Linked DNA regions of Homo sapiens. The protein of the gene in region 1 purifies or fractionates together with the protein of each later gene. This does not show direct contact. Each region holds a gene or a part of one and is shown on either strand. Other genes may lie near its edges.

Evidence for each region.
Region 2: the proteins of BCL9 (region 1) and LHX4 purify together in Homo sapiens (affinity purification with mass spectrometry, with the first as the bait; one large-scale study listed by BioGRID). This does not show direct contact.

Annotation. Positions count from the first base shown.
Region 1 is NC_000001.11:147,607,501-147,611,000, forward strand, and holds part of BCL9 (B-cell CLL/lymphoma 9 protein), read left to right. Parts: intron 1-3,500. UniProt on the Homo sapiens protein: Involved in signal transduction through the Wnt pathway. Promotes beta-catenin's transcriptional activity.
Region 2 is NC_000001.11:180,261,264-180,264,763, reverse strand, and holds part of LHX4 (LIM/homeobox protein Lhx4), read right to left. Parts: intron 1-3,500. UniProt on the Homo sapiens protein: May play a critical role in the development of respiratory control mechanisms and in the normal growth and maturation of the lung. Binds preferentially to methylated DNA.

The DNA of each region.
Region 1 (3,500 bases):
TAATTACAAAGCATGAAAAATGTTGAAAAACCCTAGATGCTTTAAAAAGAATGTAATAGAAAATTTTATGTAGATTGATGGCATTAAGGGATTCTTCTCCTCTGAAAAAGAAACACTTAAGCCAAGACTTCATTCATTCAACAGAACTATTCAAACTTGATATGGGAAAGTTGAAGTTTAGGGAGAGAGGTATCAAGAATTACTTCCAAATTTCTGGCATGAGCAACTGGGTGGATAAAGGAGCCATTTATTAAGATATGGAAAACTGAAGGAAAAAGGTTTCAGGAGGAAGGCTATACACAGAATTGAAGAATTCATGTTTGATCCTGTTAAGTTTGAGACATCCAGGGAGATGTCAAGCAGGTAGATGTGTATACAGATCTGCTGGAATGGACCTGCAAATTTGGGAGTTGTTGGCATGGAGAGAACTTGCAGCATGAGAAGAGAAGATGACTCAGAGTAGAGTCCAGAGGAACTCTAAAGTTGAGAGATCAGGTAAAAAAGGGACCTGCAAAGGAAGCAGATAAAGAAGGCCTGGAGAGGTGGGAGGAAAGCTAGGAAAATGAGGTGTTATGGAAACCAGGAGAAGAGTTAACAAGAATGAAGTGAGCAACTGGCAGAATCTAAGAGATGGAGTAAGATGAGATTAGCAAAGTGGCCAGTGGTGACCTTAACAAAAATAGTGGTCACTATGATCTGGGGGTGGAAGTTGGTTTAAAATGATTAAAGGTCGAATGGCAAGTGAGGAAGTGAACCCTGTGTCTCGTCAACTCTGTGGAGAAATTTGGCTCTAAGGGGTAATAGAATGCTAGACCTGGGTTTTGTTTTGCTTTTTTTTTTTTTTTTTTTTAGCACGGAAAGATTCTACAGCCTGTCTGAATGCTGATTGGAAAGATCCAACAGACAGAGGGGATGGCCAGAGGGGAAAATGAGAGCTCTCAGAAGGCTGGAAGGGATAGGCTTAGTCCACCTGTGGCTGGATTGACTTTTGGGAGAAAGTGGGCTATTTTTTGTTTCAGTAATAGAAAAGAAAGAGGAGATAGATATTGATGAAAATTGGTTTGTGTATTTAGCAGTTAAGAACTTTCTGCCTGGCAACATCTCTTCCTATTAAGTACTGGGCAAGTCCAGGTATTGGGAGTGGGAAGGAAGGGAGGAAACGGGGTACCTAGGAGACGTAGAAGGTATTTTGAAGTGGCTTCTGGCATGATAAGCCAGCGTGCTTGCTAGAGAGTGTAGTAGTCATAGTAATACTTAACACTGGAGTGCTTACATTATACTGCTGAGCACTTTATATGAACTAGCTCACCTTGCCCACCAAGGCTCTACTTTAACAGGCACTACAGTGATGAAGAGCATAGACTTTGGGGCCGGAGTGGCCAGAGTGCTGGTTAAATGCCCACTACCACTTACTAGGGTGTGAGCTTGGTCAAGTTACTTAACATTGCAGAGCCCGTTTTCCCATCTCTAAAATAGAAATAGTGGTGGCACCTGCCTCCTGGGGTTGTTGTGACTGGGTTAACATGTTTGTACAGTACTCAGAACAATGCATGGCACATAGTAAAAATTTTAAGTACTAATTTAAGAAGAGAAGAGAAAAACATTGTATAAGTAGATCTAAGGTGTTAGGAGATGTAGTTATGTTGGGGGAAAAAAATCTCTCTGGCTATAATGATTCTGTGGAGGATCCTTTCCAGTCCTTAAAGGTGGTTAAACAGTTGAACTCTAACCTCCTGAAGAGCCTAATTTTATTCTTTGGAACTATAGAAGATGTTTGGCAGATTTTTTGCTCAGTCGTTTTTATCATCAGAAAGGCTAAAAGTAGGGACAACTTATTTCCTTGGGCTAGGGATTGAAAAACTTAGATTTTGATCCCAGTCACTGGGTGAACCCACATGCTTATTTCAACCTCTGTGCTGTCTCTCCCTCCATAAAGTAATGGGAAGGAAGATGGCTTCAAGGAAAGAGCCAGGGTCTGAGAGCAGTGATTGGAAACCTGGAAGAAGCCATTCACACCCCATGTGCTCCATTCATTCATCTCTAAAATGCCTGTCAATCAAAGTCAGGCAAATTGTGAGAAAATGAAACTGTATGTAGAAGTACTTCGAAAATAAAAGTGTTTTATGTTCACAGCATTATTATTAGAAATAATCTTTGCTACCAGCTCATCATAAATGCTTGGCAGATTAATGAGGTGATTTGATAATTGTAATGTTTTGAGTTTCTTTGGAAGACGTGTGTAACACAAATGCCAGGTGTTTCTGTTATGGGAGAACTTGAATAAGTCACAGAGGATCTAACTACATGCTTAGTACATCATGCTGAGTATTATAGAAAAACAAAAGAACTTTAAAACAAGGTTCTTGGCTTCTAAGAATATAGTTTTCACAGGGTGATAAAATATACACCTAGTATTATTCAGTACGACATGTGATTGAGTGCTAGAATACGTGATGCAGACAGAAAGTACTAGAAGAAGTTGTGGAGGGGGACTATATAGGTGGTAACTGCTTTTCTTTTCCTGAGGTAAATGTTTTCTGATGGCTTTGTCCATGCAGGATTCATTTTCTACTTCTATTTTCCCAGTGATTTCTAATGTTCATTGAGAGGTTACAAAATGGTTTATGATTATATATGTCCAACTTGACAACCAGAATCCATTTCTTAGTCTAAACCAAAAAAAAAAAGCTGGAAGCTGATGGGGATAAAAATAGAACCTTAAATATGATCAAGACCAAAATGTTTTTTAACATGCTGTCTCCTGAGGTCAGCATAGAAACATTCATAATGTTTTTATTCTAGTTCTTTTTCCTGACTTTTTTATTTAAAAAGGAAAAAATTTAATTGAGTGTACTCAGAACTTCCATAAATTTCTTTCACTGTCCCAGGTAAAATAGCTGAGACTATTGCAGATTTCTAAATGAAGAAATAGACCTTTAACATGTGACAGTGATCATAGTGCTACAACCTAGGATATAATTGATCCTCCCAATTTTAGCCCAGTCTCCATTCTCTCAAAGTACATGTAAGCTGCAACACCTGAGCTGTTTCTAACTCCCTTTGGTTCTGTAGTCACTAGTCCTGCACCTAATATTCTCCTCCTTCATTCCTATACTTTGTCAGTAAGATACTAGAAGCTGGAAGGGGGTTGATAATGGGATAGTGGTTACAAGAAAACCATAATGGAATTACCCTGGGAGGGAGCAGAGACTTAAAGTATGTCTTGGTTTTACCTGAATTTGTCTAGGCTTCCCTGAATAAAGGACTTTCTCATTTGTTCTCTAGCTAGGTTTGGGAATATTTTCTTGACCTTTATGCTTCAAATTAGCCTTGCAAATTGGCTCAAAAAATATCTTAGCCTTCAAAGATGTTCTTTTACTTTCAGAATTATGGATCATTCCCATGCTTACCCATGCCTGCAGTCCCTGTCATTAAGCAGTGAGAACACTAGACACATACTTGGCATAATTTAATAGAAAGATCATGGAAATCAGGGGGCA
Region 2 (3,500 bases), about 33 Mb from region 1:
AGCAGGAGTTCTCTGCGTGAGGGTCAGCATAGGCCTGTAAACCACCTGCTAAGTTGTTCAAAATTGTGCCTCAGGAGGGGACCTGGGTTTTCATCAGATTCTTAAAGGGATTCAGGACCCAGGAAAGTAGAGTTAATATTTGTTGAATAAATAAATCAGCAGATAAAGCACCATACTTGTAGAGGATGTGCACGGAGATGGCCGAACCTGAGGATGTAGAACAAAGCACACAGTCGGCTCTGGATGGTTCTAGACCTCCCAGAACACAGGTGAGAACCAGGTCCTCCACAACTGCTGTGTAACCACATCACCTGGATCAAAGAGGAAGGCTGGCAGGCACCCACCTCTACTGTGTGTGTGTGTGTGTGTGTGTGTGTGTGTGTGTTATGTGTGTGTGTATAACAGAGAAAGGAAGCCTACACATGTGTTACTAGAGAGTGTTTTCAAAAGGCCTGTATATTTAATATCCAATCCCAGCCAATTTGCAAAGCAGGTACTGAAATGAAACAAGGCACCAGGTGTGGTGGCTCACGCCTGTAATCCCAGCACTTTGGGAGGCTGAGGCAGGAGGATCACTTGAGCCCAGCCTGGGCAATATGGTGAATCCCTGCCTCTACAAAAAATGCAAAAAATTAGCCGGGTGTAGTGGTGTGCACCTGTAGTCCCAGCTACCTGGGAGGCTGAGATGGGAGGATCACCTGAGCCCAGGGAGGTTGAGGCTACAGTGAGCCAAGATCACGCCACTGCACTCCAGCCTGGGCAACAGAGCGAGACCCTGTCTCTAAATTAATTAATTAAAATGAAACAAGGCTTTCATCATGCTTGTTGCGAACCCTCCCAACAAACCACGCAAATCTGGAGAATGTGTCCTAACCAGAGATCCAAGGAGAGGAGGGCTGAGAGGAGACCCCGGAACAGAGGGAAGACCCTTCAGCAGCCTCCTCCACAGGGGCCACACTCTCTCCCACTAAAAAGCAGGCAGGGGGCTTTCAGTCACCGGAGGCCCAGCTGACACCAGCACACCAGAGACATGAAAGATAACGGGGGTATAAATTTAATCTACATACCGACAGTGATTCATGCATGAGGGTGGCAAGTGCACAAGAAAAATGAAAAATAAGTGGACTTCCCCACCAGCGTTTTTTAGCAATTGAAGCAATTTTCCTGATTGTGGGATTTATACTGAAGGGAAGTGGAAGTGGCTCCTCATTACCTTTTCCCCTGGAGCACAGCCAGCGGGACCCTTGCCGAGGGAGCCGCATGCAGCACCTCCTTGGCCCACAAGGCTCCCCCGGCCCAGCCCAGCCCTGCAGATCACCCTCCACCCCATCTCCAGTCAGAGCCAGTGTATCTAGAATACAGGGCATCCTACAGGGGTGTGTCTGTGATGGAGACACTGTCCCCATTCCCAGATCTTAGAATAGCCAGAGTCACAGGTGAGAAGGCCAAAGCCTGGCAGGTCACATGACTTGCCCTGCGACAGGCAATAATGAGACACACGGTCATGCCTAGAATTCCCTGGCCCCACACGAGGTAAAACTGTGAACCCGGCTGCTACACAGAGAACCAGAAGTCTAACCAACTGGACCAAATATGAAGGACGCTGGGGTAAAGAGGGAAAGGCTGGACTCCAGCCAAGGAAGAGGGCTCCCAAGGGCTTTTCCAAGCAGCACCCCTTAACACCGATCACCGGGCACCCATGCAGGGGCACCAAGGGCACTGGCCTCACCCTTCAGAAAGATAAGCCTGCTGCCCAGTCCTGCTAGCCAGGCCTCTGGGGACAACCAGTCCCCCCAGGAGAGCAGCTGGAGCTGATCCAAAACCACAGAGAAAATGCAAGGAAGACTTGCTAATGGCTCATATTATTTTCATCCTCTAACCAACACCACTGGAAATTGTCTTATCCCTGCCCAGCACATAGTAGGCAAGCCACAAAGACCCAATGAATGAATGAATGAATGAACGAATGAGCAAACGAATGAGTGAACGAACGAACTGCTTCTTAAAACATTTGCCTGAGTAGTCAGGGGAGGCTTGGCTCTCCATAATGGCAGCTCTTTTCTTTTCTTTTTTTTTTTTTTTCAAGTTTGGTATTAACTTTGTTCTATTTTTGGTCTAACTTTAAGTACCTAAAGATTTATTTCCACAGGCCTCAGAAAATGGGTAGAAATCACAGGACAATCCCTCTTCCCACCAAAAAAAGTTGCATACTTTGGTAAGTGTTTATCCTAGAGGGAAAAAGCTGAAATTTACATTAGCAGTGCTGTGCAAGATTCTGACATAAATCACGACCTCAAACCAGCCTGCAGTGGAGGTTCTAGTCTTCTGTTCAGGCACTTGGACAGAAGCCATAGCTGATGAGCATGACAGGGAAAAGGAGGCAGTAAAGACAGGTGACAGGCACCTTGTAGGGAAGGAGGATTCAGGAATGCCAGGCTCCTTGGAATGGTGTGCTGTTTTTCCTTTTTTTTTTTTTTTTTTTCCTTTCAAAGTCATCTCTGTAGGAAGGTGCTGGGCAGCGATCCCAGAGAAAGAAAGGTCCAAGACTCCTTTAACTGTCCTGGATGAAGGGCAGTGCTACAGCAGCTAGTACCGGAGACTCTCCTATCTCATGGTTGAGGCAGACCCAGGATAGAATAGAGAATAAAAGGAATGCTTATAGGAAACCATTTTGCATGGAATGCTAGATGGCCAAGCCTCAGCCTTTGGTCCAGTGCAACCCTTGCCTCACTTGTCAACAGTGAAAAATTAGTTTGGTTAGAGGAACCATCTGGAAACACACCAGCTTCTGCTAGCTTCATGTTCATTGCTAGAAAAAGATTAACCAGTGTGAACATTCTGATCTGTTAATTCCTGGGATTGTTTTCTTCCCGAAGGACTGTTTGTTGGTAGGATAACCCCCAAAAGCTCAAAGCTAAAATGCATCATCAGTCCTGGTTGGCAGTTCCTTAAGAATGGACTGGCGGCGTGAGCGAGCTGATATGGACAAGCTGCCCCTTCCTGCAGAACATCAACTGACCTACTATCTCACCCCAAATCTCTGCCTGAGGTATATTTCAGTGAAGGCAGTTAGTTGTGCTTCTCAGAGCAGAGAAGCAGTTTTAAGCTCTTTTCTTTAGGGGTGAGGGGATCTCACTCGGTTGCCCAGGCTGGAGTGCAGTGCCACAATCATAGCTCACTGCACTCGAACTCTCAGTCTTCCCACCTCGGCCTCCTGAGCAGCTAGGATCACAGGCACATGCCACCATGCCCAGCTCATTTTTTAAGACATGTTTTGTAGTGATTGGGTCCTACTATGTTGCCGAGGCTGGCCTTGAATTCCTGGTCTCAAGTGATCCTCCCACCTTGGCCCCCAAAGCACTGGAATTACAGGTGTGAGCCATCCCCTTTGCCTCTGCTGTCATTAGCTTCCCCTCTGCTGGCTCCTTCCATCCATGTACAGGCATGCTATGATCCCTGCCTGCCTCCCTTCTCTACCGCCCACTCCCCGCACCCTTCAG